7 linked regions of the Homo sapiens genome follow. The protein of the gene in region 4 interacts with the protein of the main gene of each other region in a pairwise test. Each region holds a gene or a part of one and is shown on either strand. Other genes may lie near its edges. The genes, in order: GAREM2, MYH7, GOLGB1, ECPAS, MAL2, MKI67 and RNF168.

Region 1 (4,189 bases), on a different chromosome or scaffold from region 4:
GAGACTTTATTGAGCAGGAGATGCTGGAGCTGTGCTTCCCAGTCAGGGCCTAGGCCCTGCAAGAAGGGCCCTACTGGGGCAGTGGAGAGGGCCCGGACGGGACTGTCCCTTATAAGGTCCCAGCTGTGAGAGCTCCCCCAGAGCCACGGGTCGCTCAGGTCAGGAGAATGACAGGGCTTAGAGCAGCTGATTACTGCCTCTCCCAAGGGCAGCCCTTCCTTTCCACCCACTGCCTTGTTCAGGGGACCTCGAAGGAGAGGGGGGGAGTCCCCAGAAACCCCCAACCCCATCTCAGAGAAGCCACCCACTGCCTTGTCAAGGGGACCTCGAAGGAGAGGGGGGAGTCCCCAGAAACCCCCAACCCCATCTCAGAGAAGCAGCTCCTTGACACCCCCTCCCCACGCCCCCTCATCCTCCCAGTTACAGGGGTGACGGCTGAGGGTTGGAGGGGTTGAGAGAGCAGGTTTAGAAGGCAGGAGTGGGAGGCCCAGCCCTGGGGCCTGGGGGAAGCTGCTCTGGGGCAGAGGTGTTGGGAGTTGGGAGGGGTCTGGGCCTGGAGGCGCCAACCCCAGCAACGGTTTCCAGGGGAGCAGGAGGGGCAGCCCAGCTTCCAGGAGGCAGAAGGGGCTGTGTCCGGGCTGCAGCTGGTGGGGAGGGTGGGGGTAGGGAGTACCTCCTTCCTTTCTCCTTCAGGCACAACTTACAAAATTTCTGCCAATCAAATGGGAAATGGTTTACTCTGATGGCTGGGGGCTCCATAAAATGTGTACATGTGGGGTAGGCGTGTGTGTGTATGTGTGTGTGTGTGTGTGGCAGGGTGGCGGGCGGTTCAAGACGCACAGGAAGGGCCTGGCCCCCACTATGTGTGTGTTGGGGGTGTTGTCTAAGCTTTCCCCTGTACCTCCTCACCTCCGGGGGCCCAAGAAGCTCTCCTCCAACTCTGCTCCCTCCTCTGAGAGCTGTCCTGGGTCCTAGCCCCATCTTCACAGCCACATGGGCACACAGCAGTAATCATGGCTCATGACCACCAACAGCTGAACCACAATAGCCCACAGTGACAGATGCTTGTCACCCAAACAACATAACTCAGTCTCCGGCCAAGGGGCCCCTCCCAAATGCACAGGCACACAGGGACCTACCCTTCAAGCCATACAATTCTGACCAGACATTCACACCCTGATGGTGACCCAGCCATAGCCACACACTGTCACACACAACAGACAGCTGGGCCATCACACCAGTTGTTCATTCACTCACCCATTCATTCAATCCATAATCTTTATTGGGCAAGGATGCCTGGTCTCAAGGAGCCCACAGCCAGGTCTAAAGACAATAAACTGACTGACCATTATAATGGGGTGCACAGTAGGAGACAAGCCAGAGTTGGCATGAGGTGGCCGGGGAGCCCAAAGGAGGCCCTACGCAGACCGAGGAGCTCAGAAAAGCTGCCCAGAAAGGGGAGATGCCAAAAAGGATGTGTGGGAAGTGGCCAGAAGACCCCAGGGCAGCGACCTCCATTCACAGGCAGACACAGTACCACACTCTGACCACTCGGCCGCGAGCCAGAGAACTAGACGCTGGCCTGCCCGACGGCGGGGCGCCGATGCTCCCCCATGAGCCTGCTCCCGGGACAGCTGACGCCCACTGTGCCCACTCCTGGCCGCCACGGAGGAGGGGCTGCCGGGCCCCACGGGGAGACGAGGAGCCTGCGGCCGCGGGCCCCATTAGCATTCATGGAAGCGAGTGTGCCAACGCGGGCCAAACCCCTATTCTTCTCACACACAAAACCCCCGGCCTGGCTGCCAGCCCCGGCTACCGCCCATCCCCCAACCAAGCAGCACCCCCCTCCCCCCAAACGGTCCCCTCGCTCCATGCAGCCTCCGGGCGTACCCTCTCGGGCCCCCATGCGTGGTTCCATCAGCCGAGCGGCTGGGGGCCCCAGGTCCTATTAAGAAGTGGGACAAGATTCGGGGGAGGGCCGGGAGTTTGGGGGTCACGCCGGGCAGCAGACCCGGCTCCCGCCGGCCTCTCCCGAAGGTGGCCTGCCCGCCCCAGGACCGAGGCTGCTCCTAGGGAAGAGAAAGGAGGTGCAAGAAGGGTCCCCAGAGGGGCGGAGCAGGACTAGGGGTGGCGGTAAGGGGAAGACAGAGTCCGGGTCCCAGGGATGAGGGAAGACAGAGGTGAGAGGCCAGGGACAAAGGGACCAAGGGGGCGCGGCCGGGGCGGGGGGCCCAGGGGCAGCGGGGGAAAGGGGGGCAACCGACGGGGCGGGAGCAGGGGCTCGGCCCCTTTCCGGACTCCAGCTGGGCGGGAAAACTCTGTCCCGGGCCCTGTCCCCGGTGTCTGTGCCTGTGCTTGTCCGCGGGGCCCAGGAGGCGGACCTGGCGGGTGGGCCCCGCGTCTCCCGGGAGGCGCGCCAGGAACCGCTCGGGGCCCACGCCGGGGAGCTGGGAGGGTGCGGGTGCCGCACCCTCCTCACGATCCCTCTGGCCCCTGGCTGGAGAGCCCACCATTTCCCCGCGGACCCCGGTCCCCATCTCCAGCGACCCCGGTACCTGGCCCAAGGCAGGCGAGCGTGGGCAGGCGGCAGCGGCTGACGATGAGGTCGAGCGGGAAGGCGCCCATGCTCCAGCGCAGGCCGGCCAGCCCGGCCGCCAGCTTCTCCATGGCATGGGCGCCCCGGGGCCGCCGTCCCGGGGCCCCGACGGTCAGTCCCGCGCGGCCCAGGCTCTCGCGCCCGCCGCCACCTCCCGGGGCCGCCGCGGCGCTCGCCGCCTGGCAGCCCCGCCGGGCCGCGGGCGTCACGTGGCCGGCCTCCCCGCAGGGCGCCGACCCCGGCCCCGCCCCCGGGCCCCGCCCCCTCCTCCCGGACCCCGGCCCCCTCCTCCCGGACCCCCGCCCCCTGCTCTGTCCGCCCCGACCCGGACTCGCCGCCGGACCCACCCCCGGACCTCCGCCCCCAGCCCTGTCCGCCCTGCCCCGCCCCGGCCCCCTCTCCTCGGACCCCGTCCCCGCGCCCCCTTCTGGGACCCCGGGTCCCCAGCCCCGCGCTCCGTCCGCCCGCCCCTGCCCCCGCTCCCCGGCCCCCACCCGCCGCTGCCGCCAAGCCCCGCCTCCCCTCCCGCCAGCTTCCCCGCGCCCAGGTGACGGCGGGTGATGGAGGACCCCAGGGCGGGCGCCTGGAGGGACAACGAAGTCCCGAGCGGCATCTGCGGAGTCGGCGCGGGGTCGGCCTCCTCCTTCTGGCTGGGTGTGTCCGGGCCCCGCCGCTCCCCCTCGTGCTGGCCTCCCGGAGGCCGCGCCCACCCGCGCCCTGTCCTGCTCCGCCGCCCAAAGCTCGGGTTCTGAATTCTGCTCTTCCAGGACCTTCATCACCTCCGGCTCCGTGGAGCTGGGCGAGGCAGCCTCCTTAACCCCATTTTACTGATGAGCAAACTGAGGGGCAGAGGTCAGGTGGCAGCCAGGACTTCAACCTAGGTTGGACTTCAACCCAGATTTGACTCCAACCCTACTGCCCAAGAGCACCCTACAGCGCCCCACCATAGAGCACCTTCCACGTTCCCAGCGCCCCCTTAGCCGATAGCCCTGTGTCATGTAAACCGGCGCTCCAACCCTTCCACAGCACGCGGTGTGGACTGCGTCCATTCTGCAGATGAGGAGGCCGAGGTTCGAGGGCGTAACCGGTGCTGCGGTCTCCTCTCGGATCATTACAAGAACCGCCTTCCTCCCCCACCGCCACCATCCCTTCTCTCTTTTCCTTCTCTTTTTTTGAGACTGGGTCTCACTCTATCACCCAGCCTGGAGTGCAGTGGCGCGATCTCGGCTCACTGCAACCCCCACCTCCCGGGCTCAAGCGATCCTCCCACCTCAGCCTGCGGAGTAGCTGGGATGACAGGCACCTGCCACCACTCCTGGCTAATTTTTTTGTATTTTTAGTAGAGACGGCGTTTCACCATGTTGGCCAGGCTGGTCTTGAACTCCTGACCTCAAGCGATCCTCCCGACTCGGCCTCCCAAAGTGCTGGACTTACAGGCGTAAGCCACCGCGCCCAGCCTTCGTTCCCTTCTTTTAATTTGCGTTTCCTTTTCTGCTGTCCTCACCTCTTCCTTCCAAGCCCCCTGGACTCCAGCTCGGGGCCTCCCTTTGGGACCCCCTTCCCAGAAGCTTAGATGGCCTCGGCCTCGGCCTC
Region 2 (4,204 bases), on a different chromosome or scaffold from region 4:
CAGGCCTGCCTCACTCCTTCCAAGCTGACAGCTAATCAGATGGACTAATCCGCATGCGCGGAAGAGCTGTGCTTGGGAAGAAGGGGGAGATTTCACACCAAATCGTGCAGTGGTTGCCTAGACACGGAGCCAGTCAAGCTTGCATGCCCCGTTGCTAGAAGAGCATGGCATCGGTTGTGTTCTGTGCTCGTAGGCTGGGCCCCAGCTCCCTTTCCTCCCCTCCTTTGTGGCTGTTCCTCAGGCCTGCAGAGGGGAAGATTTTTCCTGTCCTGTTACTCTGCCTCACTTGCCAGAACACTAGTCGCCTCCAGCTCTGGATAAAGCTGAGGCTGGGTGGGCCAGACAACAGCTGTCTTAGGGGTCTCCTTCCAGCTCCAAGTAGTTGTATTATCTATAGCTCTGAGAGGGTCTGTCTCTGGGCTCAGGCCTTTAGTACCTGTGGGGCAGAGCCAGGAACGTGAGTCAGGCAAACCGCTCCAAACTAGGACCAATGCAGCTGGGTCCTGCTCTCTGCGCATAGGGGGTCCCCACATCTTTGGAATCCCAGCCCACCTTTCCAGGCTACCCTCCACAGGCCGGGCTCCACTCCCATCTGCTGAGGTTTCCCACCTTGAATCCTGCTGCCCCGATTAGCTGTATAACCTTAAAGAATGCACTGTCCCTCTCCATTAAATGAAGTGCTTGGATGGATTGCTAAAGGCCTGTCTGGCTCGGAGGCTTGGTGACCTCAACACATTGCCTGCTGGTCCAAGGAAATCAGTGCCTGAGCCAGAGTCCCCATCTCTAAGCTCCATGGTTATTGTTCTTGCCACCTGGCTAGGAAATGTCCTTCCAGCTGCCCCAGTCTAGCTGCCTCACCCTGGGGCCATGCCCCCAACTCTGTCCTACCCTTCTCTGCTGCTGACACTCAGCCCCTTCCCAGCTTCCAGTTGGATACAGGACCTGGGCCAGGAGAGCAGGGAGGACACTGTGGAAATGCGGCCAGGCCATCAGGGGCCTCGCAGCAGGGGACTGGAGGGGGAGCAGTGTCCAGGGCCAGAAGTGCCCTGCGGGAGAGCCAGGACATTGGCTGCCTGTGGTCTTGGTGGTCGTGGTCAGTTCCCTCTCCTGCCAGCTGTGGAATGTGAGGCCTGGCCTGGGAGATATTTTTGCTGCACTTTGAGCCACCCCGCCCCCTGGAACTCAGACCCTGCACAGTCCATGCCATAACAATGACGACCACTTCCAATTGTTTCCTAGCTGGAGAGGCGGGGAGGGGAGCACTGTTTGGGAAGGGGGGGAGCCTGGGGGAAATGCTTCTAGTGACAACAGCCCTTTCTAAATCCGGCTAGGGACTGGGTGCCGTTGGGGGTGGGGGTGCCCTGCTGCCCCATATATACAGCCCCTGAGACCAGGTCTGGCTCCACAGCTCTGTCCTGCTCTGTGTCTTTCCCTGCTGCTCTCAGGTAGGAGCGGGAGCTGGAGGCTTTACTCTGGGATAAGGGGGCTCCAGGCTTAGGAAGGGATTCCTCTTGGAATAGCAAGCTTCATGCAGGACTTCATGCAGAGTACCAGGTCCAGTCACTGGGCACACATGTGCAGGTCTAAACATGGGCGTATGTGCCACAGGAGTTCCTAGGGGAAGATATCTGCATCTGAGCATATGGGACCAATATGCATTACAGGGTGTGTGTGTGTGTGTGTGTGTGTGTGTGTGTGTGGACAAGCCTGCATAGTCTGAATGTGAGAAAGGGTATGTACCTCACTGACTGATACAGAAATATCAAGTGGGAGATGTGGGTGTATGATCACGTCTGTGAACGAGGAGGTTCCTTTGCAGGGAGGGAGAAAGAATGGTGGAGAAGGATTCTAGGAAGTGTGTATGCCTTCATGTGATTCTGTGAGGCCTGGAATGTGTAGCTACCCCTGTCCATGCATGCAGAGGTTCTTGTCTATGCCTCCACGAGTCATGACTGTTATAGTATCTGTACCCTCTGCAGAAGGAACTCACAGGCACGGGGGTGTAGGATGTTCCAGGTCTTTGTGTACTGAAGAACACGCAGTGATGTGATCTACTTACGTGGCACACATCCTGAAATGTGCACATTTGCTGTTGAGGCATATATGGCACCCTGGGGTTGGGGTGCGGATTGAGGTATGGGAAGGAAGCCTGTCTTCATGTGAGAGGCATGCCCAAGCAGCAGGCATGAGTGTTCATCAGAGGGCTTGTGGAGGGTGTTTGGCTATGTGATGGGTGTGTCTGTGAGAGGAAGCCCACAGTGTCTTCTCTCTGAGAATGTCCACAAAGTCTGACAACAAAATGGGGACAGGATGGAAAAGAAGTCTCTTTAGAGTCATCAGACTTGCATTCAAGTCTTGGCTCTCCCACTTGTTGTCATGGGCTCTTGGCCAAGCAAGCCATTTAACCTCGATTTCCTCATCTGTCAAATGGGGTGAAGACTGAGTAGGAGAAAGTGCATTGAAGTGCTTTTAGACTGGAAAGTGCCGAACAAATGTGACCATTAGTTGTCTCTCAGATGGCTCAAAGAAAGGTACCACTAGATGGGTACAGGCAGGGGTGGGACCATCTCGCAGGAGTGAAGAGGATTAGGGTTCAGGTTGAGTTGACACCAGGAAGCTGTTAGAACTAGTTCTTGAGGAAAAAGGGAATAGGGTTTGAAAAACAAGAAGGATGGGACCAGAGAAGCTGACCACCCTTTCCACCTTGTTTTGGAAGAGGGTGGATGCTGAAGAACAGAGCCAGGGAGAAGCAGGAAGGTGGGACTGGTCAGGTTGGGCACAGCCTGCCCTGACACAGCCTCTTCCCTCTCTCCAGGTCCCCTGCAGGCCTTGGCCCCTTTCCTCATCTGTAGACACACTTGAGTAGCCCAGGTAAGAAAAGCTGAAGCTAGAGTGTTGAAAATCTAGTAAGACTGGGCATTAGAGCCCCAAAGCCAGCCTATGGAACTCTAGTTTCTGCCATGTGCTGGAGAGAATATCTTGGCTATCAAGAGCTACTTACCTGTGACCAGGGGGTCCAGGGATAGATGAGGGTCAGAGATGGAAATAGTTAGATTTCTGCTCCTACAGGGAGCTCAGAATGCTCTTCCTTCCCCTAGGAGAGCCCCAGCTTGAACAATAGTTAGTTGTTCCTTTTACCCTGGCAGGTTTGCTAGGCTGCTCCTCTGGTTAAGGGGTAACCTCAAAGAGGAAGGGACTCACTGGTAACTCCTCTTGACTCTTGAGCATGGTGCTAGGTTTTGGGGCTCCCACTGAAGGGGAGAGCCCAGGGAGGGAAGGGAAGAATGGGCAGATGGGAGGGCAGCCAGCTTCTGCTCACTCCAGGCACAGCCATGGGAGATTCGGAGATGGCAGTCTTTGGGGCTGCCGCCCCCTACCTGCGCAAGTCAGAGAAGGAGCGGCTAGAAGCGCAGACCAGGCCTTTTGACCTCAAGAAGGATGTCTTCGTGCCTGATGACAAACAGGAGTTTGTCAAGGCCAAGATCGTGTCTCGAGAGGGTGGCAAAGTCACTGCCGAGACCGAGTATGGCAAGGTGGGTGTCAGGCTGATGTGAGAGTCCACCCTGGCCACCTGTACACCTGGGTGGACAGAGAGGGGTACACCCATGCCCCATGCCCATGCAGACCTGAGGATGGTCCCATTCTCCTTCCCTTTGGGGAAGAATCCAGACCCTCCAAAGAGCCCTCTCCTTCCCAATATCCCTTCTGTCTTCCCTGTGAGATCCTGGTTCCTTCTCTCTTGAGCACTATTGCCCTGTCACTCACCAACTCCTAACCCTCTTGAGGAAGGAGGGAAAGCCCAGGCTGACAGGAGGGCTTGGGTGGGGGCTCTTGCAGACAGTGACCGTGAAGGAGGACCAGGTGATGCAGCAGAACCCACCCAAGTTCGACAAAATCGAGGACATGGCCATGCTGACCTTCCTGCATGAGCCCGCGGTGCTCTACAACCTCAAGGATCGCTACGGCTCCTGGATGATCTACGTGAGTGCTGCACCTGGCCCTACGTTGGGATCTCTGTTCTTGCTCCATCCATGTCCACCCCAGGAGCCAAGAGTGTCTTCTGTTTGTGTCTAGGCAGGGTTACACTCTAACCTCGTCCCAACATCCTTGGTTCAATTCCAACACTCTGGGGACTGGCATTACTCAGATTGAGTGCATGCAGAGGTTTTCCTTTCTCTTCTTTCTCTCCTGGGATCTTTCTCTA
Region 3 (3,500 bases), on a different chromosome or scaffold from region 4:
ATCCAGTCTGTCATTGATGGACATTTGGATTGGTTCCAAGTCTTTGCTATTGTGAATAGTGCTGCAGTAAACATACATGTGTATATGTCTTTATAGTAGCATGATTTATAATCCTTTGGGTATATACCCAGTAATGGGATCACTGGGTCAAATGGTATTTCTAGTTCTGATCCTTGAGGAATTGCCACACTGTCTTCCACAATGGTTGAACTAATTTACACTACCACCAATAGTGTAAAAGCATTCCTATTTTTCCACAACCTCTCCAGCACCTGTTGTTTCCTGACTTTTTAATGATTGCCATTCTAACTGGTGTGAGATGGTATCTCATTGTAGTTTGGATTTGCATTTCTCTGATGACCAGTGATGGTGAGCATTTTTCCATGTGTCTGTTGGCTTCATAAATGTCTTCTTTTGAGAAGTGTCTGTTCATATCCTTTGCCCACTTTTTGATGGTGTTATTTTTTTTCTTGTAAATTTGTTTAAGTTCTTTGTAGGTTCTGGATGTTAGCCCTTTGTCAGATGGGTAGTTTGCAAAAATTTTATCCCATTCTGTAGGTTGCCTGTTCACTCTGATGGTAGTTTCTTTTGCTGTGCAGAAGCTCTTTAGTTTAATTAGATCCCATTTGTCTATTTTGGCTTTTTTTGCCATTGCTTTTGGTGTTTTAGTCATGAAGTCTTTGCCCATGCCTATGTCCTGAATGGTATTGCCTAGGTTTTCTTCTAGGGTTTTTTATGGTTTTAGGTCTAACATTTAAGTCTTTAATCCATCTTGAATTAATTTTTGTATAAGGTGCAAGGAAGGGATCCAGTTTCACCTTTCTACGTATGGCTAGCCAGTTTTCCCAGCACCATTTATTAAATAGGGAATCCTTTCCCCATTTCTTGTTTTTGTCAGGTTTGTCAAAGATTAGATGGTTGTAGATGTGTGGTGTTATTTCTGAGGGCTCTGTTCTGTTCCATTGGTCTATGTATGTGTTTTGGTACCAGTACCATGCTGTTTTGCTTACTGTCGCCTTGTAGTATAGTTTGAAGTCAGGTAGCGTGATGCCTCCAGCTTTGTTCTTTTTGCTTAAGATTGTCTTGGCTATGCAGGCTCTTTTTTGGTTCCATATGAACTTTAAAGTAGTTTTTTCCAATTTTGTGAAGAAAGTCATTGGTAGCTTGATGGGGATGGCATTGAATCTATAAATTACCTTGGACAGTATGGCCCAGTGTGCTGTAATTCTTATTCATACATATTCAAATTATCCTTTTAGCCAATGGGAACCTGTGTCCTTTGAAAGCTTCCTATCTTGTATGACAAGATGTTTCAGGATCATTTTGTACATTTCCACTTTAGAAATGGAATTAGCCATTTCTCTAAGAAAACCTTCTTTTAAAAACTTTTTTAAAAATGGGAAAGAGTATTTCAAGACCCCAATCTAGGCACTAGAGATATTCATTGCTTCTCAGTTTGTCATTACTTTTAAGCCTTTTTGGTGGACAGAGCTAGGAAAATATGTGAACAAATATAAAATACTGAATTGTCATTTCACACTGAGTGTTCCTATTCAGATTCAAAGATTAGTTTGTATTTCGGGGTTCTTAATTTCTTCTGTATTACATCTGTATCTTCTTTTCATAACTGAAAATACAGAATTAGTGTATCCATAATTATCATTTGCTTTAATTCTACATTTCACATATAGTAATCTAGGAGTGATGATACGAATATCACCACCACAACCACTTTAGACGAGATCGGGTGTGTTCAGGATGGTATGGCCGTAGACAACAACCACTTTTAATTATTGAAAACTGTTTAAAAATATTTTTTATTTTTTGCATATGCTATTCACATTCTTCCCGATTTTTTTTCATGGTTGTCCTATATATTGTCAGAGCATATAATCATTACATACTATGCTGTCTCTCCTCCAGTCTTTACTTAGTCTTAATTCTGTTAGTAACCGTATATTTAATGCTCACCACTAGTTCTTATAATGATGTTTCTTTAGTCATTTGGATTGCCTCAAGTTTTGCCTCTAGTAAATTCTTTAGGAAAGGCTTAAGGGAATATTCATATTTCATGAATTTTCTTGCTCGTTCATAACATTTTGTCTGTGTTTTTTATATCTAAAGTTTGTGTTTGCCAGAAATAGAATCCTTGGCTCACTTTTTCTTTTCTTGAATATCTTAAATTTGTAACTCATTTTTTTTTTCTGGCAAAAACATTGCTGTTGAAAAATCTAGTGCTTTTTTTTCTTTATCTTACTGGTCATATGATCTTTTAGCCTAAAGCCTAAAGGATTTTTTTAAGTCCAGTAATTTTACTAGAGTGTTTTGTTGGTCATTCTGAGTTGACATTCTGAGGTACATTGTGGGCTCTTTCAAGATGTAGTTTCAAATCTTTTTAAAAAAAATTTTCAAATAAATATTCTTGGATTATGGTTTTTCATATTTGTGCTGTTTCTTTGCTTTGCTTTTCTTCTTCAGGGAATCCTGTTATTCACATTACTTATCTTCAATATTTATCTGTTTCTCGCAAATCCTATGTAACTCTTAATTTCTTACATTTTTTAAAAATAAACAAATTATTAGGAATTATTTCAGATCACTACAGAAAGTTTACTACAGAAAATTTGCAAAGATAGTGCAGAAGTCTGGTGTATCCTTTGCTTAGTATTCCCTAAGATTAACATGTGACATTAGCAGTGTACAAAATTAAGAAACCAACATTGGTACATTAATATTAACTGAACTCCAGACGTTGTTCACATTTCACCAGTTTCTCCATTAATGTCCATTTTCTGTTCCAGGATTCAATTCAGGATATCATGTTGCATTTAGTTCATTTCTTTTTCATTTGTTTTTTAAATATGAAGACAATTGTAGAGTCACATGCAGTTGTAGGAAATAATCAGAGCTCTTTTATACACTTTGTTGTTTCTTCCAGTGGTAACATTTTGCAAAACTAATACATAATATCACAATTAGGATATTGAGATAGATATATTCCCCAGTTTTACTTGTATATTCATTTGTATATGTATGTATGTGTATCATTAAGTTTTGCAGTGTTATATCACCTGTGTAGGTTCCTGTATCCACTGCCACAGTCAAGATATTGAACAGCTGCAACACCACAAGGATCCCTTGTGTTGCCTTGTTATGACCACAGTCACTTCCCACCCCAACCCCTCTCTAACCACTGGTAATCACTCATCTTTCCTCCATTTCTAAAATTTTGTCATTTCAAAAATGTTATAGAAGTATGGAATTGTATAATATGTAACCTTTTGGGACTGGCTTTTTTTCATTCAATGTAATTTTCTGGAGATCCATCTAAGTTGTTGGGTCCATCAGTAGTTCGTTGCTTTTTATTTCTGAGAAGTATGTGATGGGATGTATGTACCAGTTTGTTTAACCATTTGCCTGTATATATCAGTTTGCTTAACCGTCTATTAATAGAAATAAAGCTGCTATGAATGTTTATATACAGCAGGTTCTCTTGTGAA
Region 4 (3,500 bases):
TGACAAAGCAAATGGCACAAAATGTTAACAAATGATTCTGCATAAAGTGTATACATATTGCAGAGTATTACATGTACTGTCGTTGCAACCATTCTGTAAGTTTGAAATTACTTTCAAGTAACAATTTTGTAAAAATACTTGTCACGAAGGTTTTTCTAAACTAGATGCTAAAATCCTGTTATAGTTCCAGATTTAAATATTCCAGTTAAGGGGTACACATGGAGTATAATAAGTAGCAGAGTCCAGTAGCTATTTCAGAAATTTAGTTCCTAAGACAAAGTAGGAAATATTTGAAGCTCAGCTCCTTAGCTTTAAAATTAGGACTCCCTCATCAGTTTTAGTTTACTACACTCACCTAAAGAATATGTGATTGATTTACAAGTTTCAAGCAGAATTTCAGCCAAAGCCTCAGGATCGGCATGTTCTTCTTCCAAAAGCATTAACCTATACAAATCAGAAAGCAAGGTACAAATGCCAATTATTAAGAAACAGTCTAAAACTTTCCTGTCACAATTTCTATCTGTATGTATCACTGTCACTTTAGCTACCAGTTTTTAAATGTATAAAAATTCCATTGATTATACATAAAATGCTGCGGGGAGGAACAAAATAAAAAACTGAGCCATGAAGCAATTTACCCCTGAAAAAAGGCATTCATTGATTGCAGGACTCCTAGCTGCACTTTCCACGTGCTGAGTTTTAGCCGTTCACACATCAGTTTGCACAGCTCCTGACGATAACAACCTGGGAAAAAAAGACAAGGTGGGACAGAGCAGGAGACAGTATAAAAGAACAAGAGATGGAATAAATGAGGGACAGGCAGAGAGAGCAAGAGAAAGGAAGAGGGAAAGAGAAAGAGAGAAGGTGGGGAGGATAAGAGAGAGAAAAGCAGGAAAAAGAGAAATAAAACAATAAATACTTTTAATTAAAGCCATTGAAATTTCCCCAAAAACTTCAGCATGACTTTGTACTCAATCCCCAAACAAATTTCCTTGATCAGAAACTGCCCCCACAAAGGTGCAATATAATTGTTCACAAATATTCACTTTCAAGGCATATGGTTCTCCATGGAACTGAGAAAGCACTTTAACCACACTCCCTTTGCCCCTCAAAACTCCCTGAATGACAGCCACAGAAAGAACTCTGGAGGCCAGAAGCTCCTCTCTAGATGCTCACAAGCTTCTGCAAATTGCAGGTTTACCAAGAGTCAACAGTGCTTTATTATAAACCTGTTATGCCAACTGCAACTGTAATTATAACTATATAATTAATATTATGCCAACTGATGAATCAGCAGAAAACTCAACAACGAAGTTATTTTTAATTACTGTAGGATTTAGTAGGGCTCAAACAAATGTAAAAATGGGGGGAGGCAATAAAAAATCTAGAATTCTGCACTAGGATTGTCTCATAAGAGCTTGAAATTTCTTTCTCTGTTTTAAAGAAACAAAACCCAGAAATTGTAGATATATATGAGAAGCCAATGTGTAACAGTTAAGTTCCTAAAGAAAAGGCCTTGGTTCTCAATAAATGCACATTTCTATTAACAACCTTCTATGTCTTATATTAAAATAAACTGCTTTATGTTTGTATCATCTTTCTCATATAATTCCCTACTTTAGCTTTCTCTACCTATCAAGGAAAAGTTAATACTCTTTATGGCATCATATTAGTGGACTTCCATGGCAGTCTATAACATAATATTAAGAAATAAAACCACCTGCAAATTTGTATCTTCTGGGAAACCCTTCCTATAAACATAGCAAATATATAAGTTCACACAAAGGATGACAGGGCTCAAAGAGAACCTTAACTGATTCTAGACATATCCAATCACAAATAATCAACAGTACTTTTTATAACATTCAATAATATTGTCGCTGGGCATGGAGGCTCATACCTATAATCCCAGCACTTTGAGAGGGAGGCCAAAGTGGGAGGATCACTTGAGCCCAGGAGTTTGAGACCAACCTGGGCAACATAGCAAGACCTCACCTCTTCAAAAAAAATTTGCTGGGTGTCGTGGCATGCACTTGTAGACCCAAATACTTGGGAGGCTGAGGCAGGAAGATCACTTGAGCCCAGGAGGTAAAGGCTGCAAGAACTGCACCACTGCACTCCAGCCTGGGCAACAAAGCAAGACCCTGTCTCAAAAAAAAAACAAACAAAAAAAAAACGAATACTAAGATCTTCAGCAGGATGCACTGTAGGACCCAACACAAGGCAAGCTTAAAGGGTAGCATCATCACTTCTTGGCCTTTTGGCTAAGATCAAGTGTAAAGGGTAGTATCATCCCAAGGTTAAGGCCCTGTCAGGGGACTCCAAACTAACTGCAACCTCATCCAATAATAGAGGTTTACTGTTCATTTAATCTTTGGGAAATACATGTCCAGTTCTGAAAATTGTCCAAATAGTAATGAGTTTTTCACTGAAACAGGGATTTCAGTTGCTTACTGAACACTTGGTAACAAGACCATTCATTTCAGGATAAAGAGACCCTGCTAATAAACTTTGTGCATTCCTCTGAATAGAGCTATGATCATCAAGAAGATCAGTAGAACTCGTCTATCAAACTATCTGCATAAAATGTATCATGGTTATTATAGGTGGAACTGTGCCCCCAAAATTCGTATGTTAAAATACTATCCCCCAGTACCTCAGAATTTGACTGTATTATTATTAAATAGAAGACAGAGCCTTTAAAGAGGTCATATGAGTGGGCCCTAATCCAGCGTGCCTGGTGTCCTTATAGGAAGAGGTGATTAGGGCACAGAGACACCAAAGACCACGTGAAGACACAGGGAGAAGACAGCCATTCCCAAGCCAAGGAGAGAGGTCTCAGGAGAAACTAACCCTGCTGACGCCTTGATCTCGAAATCTCAGACTTCTATCCTCCAGAATTGTGAGAAAATAAATTTCTGCTAAGCCACCCAGTCTGTGATACTTTCTTACAGCAGCCCTAGCTACAGCGGTACAATGATCAGTGAGATCACAGACTCATGTAGACAAAAAACTTTCACTGGATAATTCTCATTATTAATCAATCAGGCTCGATAAGAAACAATAACTATAATTTGTCATAGAGAAAATTCTTCGCTCTCATTAAGTAACCTCTGGTTACAGCACTTCAAATGCAGTTTCTGGTGCTTACGTTGGGTCTCCGCGTTTCGCGGCCAGGCTTTGCCCAGGCTTTCAAAGGCACCCAGCAGATATTCCAGCTGGAGCTCCTTTTCCTTTTCATTCTCCTCTTCATTTTTGGTTGTCCGGACCCCACTGCTTTCAAGTGAGTTCTAGGATATATCAAAGAAAAGAAAATGTAATATTTTCTTCTTCAAAGTTACAGGTATACTATTAAAGCTATCAGGGTACCAACCAAGGCAGGAGATATTAACCAAGAGTTAAATGATAAATTCTCTACCATAAGTTTCCCTATTTACAACAAGAATTTATAACCAGAATACTGTATCTCTAATAAATTTAGGCAATACTTTACAGGCATC
Region 5 (3,500 bases), on a different chromosome or scaffold from region 4:
CGTACTCAAAATTACAGCCCTTCAAACACCTCAAAGGCTTGGAAGGGAAACTAAATGCTGCATGAACAGGAGTCAGATTCACCTCCTCACTTGTGGGGTATGTGCTGCATGGAAAGGGGAGAGGGAAGGAGTGTAGGAATGCCCCCTCTCTCTCACTCAAGTAAATACATATGATACATCCCTAGAGCTGAGATTCTGTGAAATCCAGGCTCGCTTTGGAAGAGAGAGGATGGGCCAGAGAACATAATTGAGCCCACTTTGGAGGGCCACCATCCTCATTTTGAGACTGTCATACTGGTGTATGGATCACTCTGGCCTTGACACAGTTATTATTCCCTACTTTGTGATTTCCTTTTGACAAAAGCTACTTTTCTTCTTGAGCTTCCCAACTTGGCTCCAACTTAAACTTGGCTCCAGTTTTTTTAAGTTAAAAAACTGAACTTAAAAAATTGAGATGACCAATGCTCAGTATATTCACTTCCTCTAATTCCGGGCATTAGTGAGCTTAGAGTGTTTGCAAAACGGTGTAATTATCAGCATTCCTGTTCAGTAGAGACGACTCTGGAGGTGGCCATATTTTTAGAAGTAAAAAGCAGAACACAAAAATGGTTAAATCTGACAGAGAACAGATGATAAATACAGTAGCAACTGCAGAGTACACACTGTGAAGAAAGGTATTCGGAACTATTATATGTTTCGCCCACGTTATTCTCATCGTCTTGGATCTGAATCCATATTCTGACCCCTTCCCTGCCACTGCCTTCCACTGCTTTCTAGTGTTCTAAAAAATCCAATAATTATGTATAAAATAGCCAAAGGCACCTCAATTTGAAATTTCTTTAAGAAACTAAGTCAGTGCTTATGACGTCAAACCTCAAGCTCTAACAAAAAGACTACCTTTGCTTCCAGGCAATACAAAGGTAAAAACCTCCTAGGAGTAGGTATCAGCATCTCCCGGTGACTCAGTCACCTTTTATCTTCTTAACCCAACTTTAGGTGTACTGGGTACATACCAGAAGTACTCAAATATATTCTGAGTTGCAGTTATTAAATTGCTACACATTCCTAAAACAACTGATCTTCTTTCTGGTTTAACACATGTTTGTTATGTTTGCTTGGTCTCTGCAGACCAGAAAGGTATGACTTGGCTGAAACCCTACCATAAGAAAACCACGGAAGTATTTATCCACAAATCACACTAAACTGAATCCTCAGGGTTTGATGTGAAGACATGTTTTCACTAGAAACTGTGGAATGGGAAAAATACATAGTCCCACGGGAAAACATGCTCTTGAGCAAGTAGCAACTCTTGCAATTCTGGGTGCATGAATTACAGATTCTTAACTCATCTCCTGTTTGGACGGTCTTATGTTCCCAAAGGGTTCCTTTTGCAAATGCCCTTTTTCTTTTCAAATGTCACTTATTTCCTAATTACCTGCTTTTAAACATACCCTCTGACAGCTAAAAATTTTTTCAAACCAATTTGACACCTCCATCTTAGTATACCCACAAAGTAAACCGGCTAATTTCTACTGTGACCTATTTTCAATTAATGTTTGGAATGAGAACAGGAAAAGGTAAGTGAATTTGAAAGGATAAAGGCTGGCTAAACTACCCATAAGGGAAAACACTATTTAGAACTTTCCGTATTAAGCTCCCTCCTTCTAATTCTATTATCTATATATTGGATAATTCATTATTCTACTGCAGTGAGAATGAACACCCAGCAAACATAGAGGAAAAGCAAAAAAATATTTGTCTTCCAGTCTGGCTTGTAGAGTTAGAGTAAGAAGTTGAAGCTAATGGTGATAGCAGAAATAGTACTTAACATTTACTGAGCTCTTATGTTATAAGCACCGTTATAAGGGTTTTATTTGTGCCAATTTAATCCTCACAGACCTTGAGAGACAACATTATTATTCCTACTTTATAGGTAAGTTAATTGAGGTACAAATCCATTCATAACTTGTTCCTAGTTATATAGTTAATAAGTGTTAGACCTGAAATTTGAACTTGGCAATTGGCTTCCAGAACTTATGATTTTAACATTCTGCTATTCTGCCCCTCTCATGGTTTAGTGTTCATTCTAAAGCAGGGTTTCTACCCATATTCCATATGATTTCCTAAAATCATATAAAATTGGGTGGACAAGTACATATGCATTTTTCTGAGGACACAGTCCACACCTTTCATCAGAATCACAAAGGGGTATGTGGCCCCCCCACCCAGAAGTTCAGAACACTTTATCTACTTGTAACCCCTTCTATTTTAATGGATGTTTACTTATGGGGTGCTGCACAGGAAACATCATGGTTATAGAAGTGTTCAGTATATTCAGAAATTTATCAGCTAGAAAAAAAAAGATTATCTACAATTAGCTATATTTTACATACAATTCGCATTTTGAAAGATTTCCTTAAACTAGAAACATACTTAGCCAACACATACAATATAACTGGTAGATGTATTTACAAAGCAGCCCACACAAGTATGGATTCATTCACAATGCGACTGTAGATCACTGGTACCACTACAAGGCATACTGCTGCCCCCCTCCCCAAGCTCATCATCTTCCCTGTAATGCTTCTTTTCCTACCACCCTCTCTTTGCATTCCAGCCTCTACCCCTCATCCCCTGAGCATAGAGAAATGATCACACTTGACCATGTTTCTGCCTAGCATGCTGCCAGTAAAAATTCTGCTGCATAACTAAACTCCAGTTACCATGTTTTCCAGAAAGACTTCCCTGGCCAGGTGCCATCCCTCGGTGCTTCCACGGTTACTGACGCGTGTATTCTCCACAGCAATTACAACTGGATCAAAATCATGGATCTACATGCCCATTTCACCCACTAGACTGTGACGTCAGAGTCGGTGACATTGCCTTCAACATCTCCGTATGCTCATTACCCAGGGTGGTGCTTTCTACAGAAGGTCCTCAATCCATCCTCCTTGAAATGAATGGAAACCAACCGGCATGTGTAATGAATGGTTCCAAAAGAGAATGCTCTAGGAGTGCAGCTTGGGATGCTAGGAACACACTCCGGTCTGGAGCCCAGCTCACTCCCTGGTTCATGGTGGATGTCCAAAAATAGGCATGAAAACGAGTGAAGCGAGAATATGTACTTCTCAATTCTCAAGTTATTATTGGTGACACCCACCACCTAGTACCAGATCTCAGGAGGCTGAGATGGAAAGTTATGGGAAACTTTGTACCTCTTGCCAGTTGAATTCATGACACCCAATTTTAAATCTTTTTTCGGCCCCAAATTTGCCCACATGACCTATTTCTATTGTAACTGCCACTGGAACTTTTGACCAGGGTAAATCTTGTGCCTTCTTCCAGTGCCTCCTGCTCCCCTCATCAGTCCCCATCTGTCCTCTAACCATGCTGACTTCTGTCCAAACTGCTTCTGGACTGGCCCTGGCATAGACCTGCATTAGAGATGCAAGGCAGCAAGGTGTTTATTTATTTAGTTAGTTAGGAAAACAGAACAAATT
Region 6 (3,500 bases), on a different chromosome or scaffold from region 4:
GAAGGGGCAACAAGAATGCAAGTGCTAAATGTCTAGCCTGTCAGAAATGGAGGAGGTGTCATTTAACATGTCAACGACAGACAGATGCCTAACTTTCCCTTGGTGACTGATGGTATGCTATGCTTAGGAGAGACTCTAGATATGAGAAAATTGCCTGTTCAGCTGTCAACTCAGTTCTCAGTAGTTAGATAGCATGTGCTATTTCATACTGGTTATTGGAGCTGATATGATTTATATATTTGTATCATAATACTAGTATCATAAGACTTGCAAGTTTTAGGCATTAAATAATTTGTAGGCCAAGTAAAAGCTAGCTTATAAGACAACCTGAAACAATTAAAATATTGAATTCCACAAATGTTAATCATTGAGAAAATGCTGAACTTCTGTTTCTTATTTCATAATTCATTGCCAAGATGAGAAAGCTCAAGATTCCAAGGCCTATTCAAAAATCACTGAAGGAAAAGTTTCAGGAAATCCTCAGGTACATATCAAGAATGTCAAAGAAGACAGTACCGCAGATGACTCAAAAGACAGTGTTGCTCAGGGAACAACTAATGTTCATTCCTCAGAACATGCTGGACGTAATGGCAGAAATGCAGCTGATCCCATTTCTGGGGATTTTAAAGAAATTTCCAGCGTTAAATTAGTGAGCCGTTATGGAGAATTGAAGTCTGTTCCCACTACACAATGTCTTGACAATAGCAAAAAAAATGAATCTCCCTTTTGGAAGCTTTATGAGTCAGTGAAGAAAGAGTTGGATGTAAAATCACAAAAAGAAAATGTCCTACAGTATTGTAGAAAATCTGGATTACAAACTGATTACGCAACAGAGAAAGAAAGTGCTGATGGTTTACAGGGGGAGACCCAACTGTTGGTCTCGCGTAAGTCAAGACCAAAATCTGGTGGGAGCGGCCACGCTGTGGCAGAGCCTGCTTCACCTGAACAAGAGCTTGACCAGAACAAGGGGAAGGGAAGAGACGTGGAGTCTGTTCAGACTCCCAGCAAGGCTGTGGGCGCCAGCTTTCCTCTCTATGAGCCGGCTAAAATGAAGACCCCTGTACAATATTCACAGCAACAAAATTCTCCACAAAAACATAAGAACAAAGACCTGTATACTACTGGTAGAAGAGAATCTGTGAATCTGGGTAAAAGTGAAGGCTTCAAGGCTGGTGATAAAACTCTTACTCCCAGGAAGCTTTCAACTAGAAATCGAACACCAGCTAAAGTTGAAGATGCAGCTGACTCTGCCACTAAGCCAGAAAATCTCTCTTCCAAAACCAGAGGAAGTATTCCTACAGATGTGGAAGTTCTGCCTACGGAAACTGAAATTCACAATGAGCCATTTTTAACTCTGTGGCTCACTCAAGTTGAGAGGAAGATCCAAAAGGATTCCCTCAGCAAGCCTGAGAAATTGGGCACTACAGCTGGACAGATGTGCTCTGGGTTACCTGGTCTTAGTTCAGTTGATATCAACAACTTTGGTGATTCCATTAGTAAGTTTATTTAATTGTAAATTTATTTTTCTAAAAGATGAACACCTTCTATGTAGCTGTGAGACCTTCATTCTTTCAGTAGTGATTAGCTTTGTGGAAGAGAATGTAAGCACATAAGGCACAGGGATAAGACAGACACGCACGCTGTTTTCGCTAATAGATGAATACTGAAGGCCTAGGTAATTGTAACAAGGAATGACAGAAGAGATGGAAGTTGTCAGGCAATCATGAAGCAGGGGTTATTGAAGGAGATAGGGTGGCCCCAAAAATATTTGATTCTCCTCCATCTATCACAAAATAGAAAAGAGAATAATCATAATTGCTTTTCACATGGAGTTTAATTCTGAACTACAATCAACTGTATCATATGAGTTTGGTCATGTGGAATAAATCACTGGTAATCATTAAACATAGCGGTAGTTCTCAGGTGTTGATACTCTGTTTTCAGAGTGTCCTACAAACAATTTGCTGTAAACACTGGACTGTACCCATGAGTCCATATGCCACATGAACACTTGATCCTTGGTGCAATAGCAGTGCCCGTGGCTAGGTTGTCTTTTTAGAGCTATGTCACACATGAGGAAACGCACAACCCAAGGCCAGTCAGGAAGTGGCAGAGGTAGGACCTTTATAGCAGGTGTGGTAGCTCCTCGGGAGCTTCCTACACTCCTAGGGACTGGCTATTAGAAGAAAAGTTGTCTGGGCCACAGACGCAGTATTCGTACTCCAGGCTGTGTTTCTGCAGGTGGCCTATAGCGGTGGGGCATGAGGCTGTCGATAAAATAAGGTTTGTAACATCAGTCTCAGTATTCCACCAAGCTTCCTAGTGGGGAAGCATCACTTAGGCAAGGGATTTACATTAACTGGTGGCTCAGGAAAATGTGTGGCCGGGACTGGGCTCCTGTGAATTGACTCAGAACCACCTGGAGGAGTTTTTACAGCTCATGCATTCTGGTCACTGGGTGGCTCAGGCTGAGACCCAAGTGCATGTCTTTAGAGAGTTCTCTGGCTGTCGTCCCCCTACTCTAAGGTGAAATCTGCTGCTGCAGACTCCTCCTTTCTATGTCCACACATAATGTTTCAATGTTTTAAAGAAAGCCTCTGTACTGTCCAGTGGCAACTTGACGTCTTAGTGGCCACTCCCGCAATCCTTTAGGAACTCTTAGTAGCTTAGCTTCACCAGGATTGCAAGAATAGAGGCGTGCTGTAGGTACTGTGTTTCGATGACTTTTCACTTGGTTTGTCTTTAATGCTAACGTGAAATAAATCACTAGTCTTGGTATGTTTTTTCATTGCTCTTTCCACATTTGTATCCGTTACTTTAGATGAGAGTGAGGGAATACCTTTGAAAAGAAGGCGTGTGTCCTTTGGTGGGCACCTAAGACCTGAACTATTTGATGAAAACTTGCCTCCTAATACGCCTCTCAAAAGGGGAGAAGCCCCAACCAAAAGAAAGTCTCTGGTAATGCACACTCCACCTGTCCTGAAGAAAATCATCAAGGTGAGTTGAACAAGCAGCATCCCATTCACGCCCAGTGGCTCACACACCGGGTACCTATTCCTTTCCAAATACTGACACAAGTAGAATTATGATGAAGACCTTTATTTATTTATTAAAGAAACAAGTTTTTAAAAAGACGAATGAAAGCTCATTGATGTGGGCACCAGCAAAGGAGCCCCTGGGTCCCTGACCGTGGTGCTGATGCGACCGAGTCGGGGGAGTCCTTGATGTTGTCCTTTTCGTGCAGAAGTTCCCAGACACCCACGCTTACAGCACTGCGTAATCACCTGCAGGCACCGTCAGAATAGCCAATTACAAAGATTCTGGATACATTACCACGTCGACCCATAAGGATTGTTTTATTTTCTTTTAGAGTTACAAGGCTATAGTTAAGGCATTTACCTGGTGTGAAGGAAAATCAATGGCACATCTTCCTTTTACACCTTCAGCTCTTTAGAATATTTGCTTGCCTGTTCCTTTGCTGTGTTGTCCTTCCTGGGTTT
Region 7 (3,500 bases), on a different chromosome or scaffold from region 4:
ACATATAAAAAAGTTGTTAAACAACTTGCGGTGGCTCACGCCACAAACCCAGCACTTTGAGACGCCGAGGCAGATGGACGGCTTGAGCCCAGGAGCTCGACACCAGTTCAGGAAACATGGCAAAGCCCTGTCTCCACAAAAAAGTAGCCAGGCATGGTAGTGCCAGCCTGTAGTCCCAGCTACTCGGGAGGTTGGAAGGATCACCGGAGCCCGGCCGTCGAGGCTGCAGTGAGTCGTGATTGTGCCACTGCACTCCAACCTGCATGACAGAGTAAGACCTGTCTCAAAAAACAAAAAACCCCAAAAACCTGGATTAGAGCAAATATGTAACAATATGCAAAACAATTTTACTTTAAGTAAAGCAAAAATGTTATCAATAGCTTCTAATTATGGCAACGCCATCTCTTCTGTTCTTTGAAAACCACAGTCAAAGCAATCGGAATGTTAATAGTTAGCTTTCCGTATCAGCAGGTTCCAAACACTCAAATCCAACCAGCCTGGGGTGGAAAAGACAATATTTGTGGGATGCAGAACCTGGAAATACAAGGAGCTGACTCTTCCCATGAGCGGGTTCTGCAGCAGCGCATACCAAGGGATGACCATACCTTAGCGTTCCCTCCTAAAACTTACAATATCAATGCTTAGCTTTCTTGCCAGTTCCTCATCACTTTTCAGTTGTTCTTCCATCGCTCTTCGCCTTTTTTCTGCCTGTCTTTTTTCCTCTTCTTCCTCCTCTGCCAACAACCTCTGTATGTATTCTTCACTGGCTTTGTTTTCTTCTTCCTCGCTGGCCCGTCGCTCTGCCGCCACCTTAAAAGTGATTAATAAAGAGCAATCCTTCTCTGAACGTTTTGGTATACTTGCAATATTTCATAACAAGAATAGAAAAGTAGAAAAAGAACAAATTGGCAGAAATTTAAATGATCTCAAATGAAGTACAAATCTGGAGAAGTAGATTCCTGCAAGATAGCTGTCCCATCTCAGCCTCCCAAAGCACTGAAATTATAGGTGTGAGCCTCCACACCTAGCCTGAGATGTATTACAAGTGAAAATTATACACAAAATTTTGAAGACTAACAAAAAAAGAGAAAAATCTCTATTTATGTATAACTTCATATGTAATTAAAACATAATGCTTCACTATAAACACTGCTTTTTAGGTACTTTTCCTATTTAGGAACTTCACAGCTAGCCCTTTAACCTTTCCTCATCTAAACTCACACTCTACCACCCTTTTACTTTAAGCTCAAAACTTTGGGGAAATAAAAATATATCCTGGTATGGATTAAATTAGGAAAAAGAAGAATTAAAAAATTTTCTTCATATGTAAATGCTTAGGGAACACTATCACATAAGAGCATTAATTATGTAGAAGTAAATTACAGCAAAAAACAAAGCCCTTATAAAGTACATTAAAATTATCCATATTTTGGCCAGGCACAGTGGCTCACACCTATAATCCCAGCACTTTGGGAGGCCGAGGCGGGCGGATCACAAGGTCAGGAGATCGAGACCATCCTGGTGAACACTGTGAAACCCCATCTCTACTAAAAATACAAAAAAATTAGCCAGGCGTAGTGGCGGGCGCCTGTAGTCCCAGCTACTCGGGAGGCTGAGGCAGGAGAATGGCATGAACCCGGGAGGTGGAGGTTGCAGTGAGCCGAGATTGCGCCACTGCACTCCAGCCTGGGTGACAGAGTGAGACTCCATCTCAAAAAAAAAAAATTATCCATATTTCAAGATATACTAGTTATATAAGCACAAAAAACTAAATTAAAATCTGAAACTAAAAACACAGCAGAGAAATATTCCAAAAAAAAAAACTATTTAGCACCTACCTTGCTTATTTCCTCTTCATATTCTCTTCTCAGTTCCCCAGGTTTACTGAGCAGACGAACTGGCTGATAGTCATCAGCTATTTCATATCAAAAAAGAAAATAACATTATAGGCAACACAATTTTATGGTAACTTTGGTCTTCCATTAAAACGAAAAATTAAAATATACAACTATTAATAACTGCAGCAATATCTCCTTTTGGAATTCCATTTTTAACATTTATTTTATTTATTTATTTTAGATTTATTTTATTTATTTTTTTTGAGACAGAGCCTTGCTCTGCTGCCCAGGCTGGAGTGCAGTGGCACAGTCTCGGCTCACTGCAACCTCCACCTCCCAGGTTCAAGCGATTCTCCTGCCTCAGCCTTCTCCTGAGCAGCTGGGATTACAGGCATGCGCCACCACACCCAGCTAATTTTTTATATTTTTGGTAGAGTCAGGGTTTCACCACATTGGCCAGGCTGGTCTCGAGCTCCTGACCTCAAGTGATCCACCCGCCTTGGCCTCCCAAAGTGCTGCGATTACAGGTGTGAGCCACCACGCCCGGCCTGGAATTCCATTTTGTGAGGCCAGAGGTTTAGGGTTTTGGGTTTGAAATGGCATATGAATGCATATACTTAACCCTTCCTCTAAACTCCATTAAAATAACAGTAAAGGAATTTTTAAAAACTGTAATCCTACAACAGCAGAAATTAGCAGAGGAGGTTAACTGATTAAAAAAAAATGTTTTTTTTTTTTGAGACAGAGTCTTGCTCTGTCACCCAGGCTGGAGTGCAGTGGTGCAATCTCAGCTCACTGCAACCTCCGCCTCCCGGGTTCAAACAATTATTGTGCCTCAGTGTCCTGAGTAGCTGGGATCACAGGCATGCCCAACCATGCCCAGCTAATTTTTGTATTTTTAATACAGACCGGTTTTTGCCATGTTGGCCAGGCTGGTTTCGAACTCCTAATGTCGGGCAATCTGCTCACCTCAGCCTCCCAAAGTGCTGGGACTACAGGCGTGAGCCACCGTGCCCGGCTCCAGTTAAAAAATTTTTAACAAATTTCTAGAAAATGGGAAGGCAATGAAATAGAGATAATTGATACAGCAGAAATGAAGGAAAAGAAATCCTTGAAAGGGAAGACTACAGCTGAGGTAGAATTAGAAGGGAATCTGCCTCCTATTTGCCTAGAGAGAGGCTCATAGAGTCCAGAGTGAGTAACCGTGGGACTGAAAACAGAACTCGAGATTTATAAGCTGTTAAATCAGAATCCTCGACTTACCGGCATTTCTCCCTGGATATGGGTGCAGGTGCACACACGCATATTTCTTTAAAGAAACAGATCTAGAGAGAGCCAGAGCAGCTAATGTAATAGGTGGTGACCCAGAGCAAAGTCCTCTGCGATCGGGCAGTTAGGGATGGCAAAGCACAAAGGCCAGGTTTCCATCGGCTTGAACTCAACGTCTGCCCATCACCAATACCCTTCCACATACACAGAGCTTTTCTCCTGGGCCTCATTCTCAAACCTAAAAGCTAATCCAAGGATCGTCAGACATTTGAAATACATCTGCAGGACTAGGGAAACAGTAAGCTATACAAAGAGAAAAAATCATCACCCTGGAGTTGAAAGATAATTCTGGGTCAGAAAATAACCTAAATGTGGGTATGTATCCTCAACAAA

Evidence for each region.
Region 1: the proteins of ECPAS (region 4) and GAREM2 interact in a two-hybrid assay, tested with the Homo sapiens proteins (one large-scale study listed by BioGRID).
Region 2: the proteins of ECPAS (region 4) and MYH7 interact in a two-hybrid assay, tested with the Homo sapiens proteins (one large-scale study listed by BioGRID).
Region 3: the proteins of ECPAS (region 4) and GOLGB1 interact in a two-hybrid assay, tested with the Homo sapiens proteins (one large-scale study listed by BioGRID).
Region 5: the proteins of ECPAS (region 4) and MAL2 interact in binary tests that used the Homo sapiens proteins (3 or more experiments, as listed by UniProt).
Region 6: the proteins of ECPAS (region 4) and MKI67 interact in a two-hybrid assay, tested with the Homo sapiens proteins (one large-scale study listed by BioGRID).
Region 7: the proteins of ECPAS (region 4) and RNF168 interact in a two-hybrid assay, tested with the Homo sapiens proteins (one large-scale study listed by BioGRID).

What each region holds. Positions count from the first base shown.
Region 1 is NC_000002.12:26,171,699-26,175,887, reverse strand, and holds the start of GAREM2 (GRB2-associated and regulator of MAPK protein 2), read right to left. Parts: upstream 2,801-4,189; 5' UTR 2,668-2,800; coding exon 2,556-2,667; intron 2,027-2,555; exon of another isoform or gene 1,891-2,026; intron 1,594-1,890; exon of another isoform or gene 1,016-1,593; coding exon of another isoform or gene 910-1,015; intron 1-909. UniProt on the Homo sapiens protein: Probable adapter protein that may provide a link between cell surface epidermal growth factor receptor and the MAPK/ERK signaling pathway.
Region 2 is NC_000014.9:23,432,861-23,437,064, reverse strand, and holds the start of MYH7 (myosin-7), read left to right. Parts: upstream 1-1,404; 5' UTR 1,405-1,445; intron 1,446-2,815; 5' UTR 2,816-2,871; intron 2,872-3,324; 5' UTR 3,325-3,332; coding exon 3,333-3,533; intron 3,534-3,837; coding exon 3,838-3,981; intron 3,982-4,204. UniProt on the Homo sapiens protein: Myosins are actin-based motor molecules with ATPase activity essential for muscle contraction. Forms regular bipolar thick filaments that, together with actin thin filaments, constitute the fundamental contractile unit of skeletal and cardiac muscle.
Region 3 is NC_000003.12:121,739,742-121,743,241, reverse strand, and holds part of GOLGB1 (golgin subfamily B member 1), read left to right. Parts: intron 1-3,500. UniProt on the Homo sapiens protein: May participate in forming intercisternal cross-bridges of the Golgi complex.
Region 4 is NC_000009.12:111,365,884-111,369,383, forward strand, and holds part of ECPAS (proteasome adapter and scaffold protein ECM29), read right to left. Parts: intron 3,291-3,500; coding exon 3,152-3,290; intron 745-3,151; coding exon 639-744; intron 445-638; coding exon 356-444; intron 1-355. UniProt on the Homo sapiens protein: Adapter/scaffolding protein that binds to the 26S proteasome, motor proteins and other compartment specific proteins. May couple the proteasome to different compartments including endosome, endoplasmic reticulum and centrosome.
Region 5 is NC_000008.11:119,214,863-119,218,362, reverse strand, and holds part of MAL2 (protein MAL2), read right to left. Parts: exon of another isoform or gene 2,736-3,500; intron 1-2,735. UniProt on the Homo sapiens protein: Member of the machinery of polarized transport. Required for the indirect transcytotic route at the step of the egress of the transcytosing cargo from perinuclear endosomes in order for it to travel to the apical surface via a raft-dependent pathway.
Region 6 is NC_000010.11:128,112,924-128,116,423, reverse strand, and holds part of MKI67 (proliferation marker protein Ki-67), read left to right. Parts: intron 1-416; coding exon 417-1,496; intron 1,497-2,821; coding exon 2,822-2,997; intron 2,998-3,500. UniProt on the Homo sapiens protein: Protein that associates with the surface of mitotic chromosomes and acts both as a chromosome repellent during early mitosis and chromosome attractant during late mitosis.
Region 7 is NC_000003.12:196,486,769-196,490,268, forward strand, and holds part of RNF168 (E3 ubiquitin-protein ligase RNF168), read right to left. Parts: intron 1,916-3,500; coding exon 1,839-1,915; intron 811-1,838; coding exon 631-810; intron 1-630. UniProt on the Homo sapiens protein: E3 ubiquitin-protein ligase required for accumulation of repair proteins to sites of DNA damage. Acts with UBE2N/UBC13 to amplify the RNF8-dependent histone ubiquitination.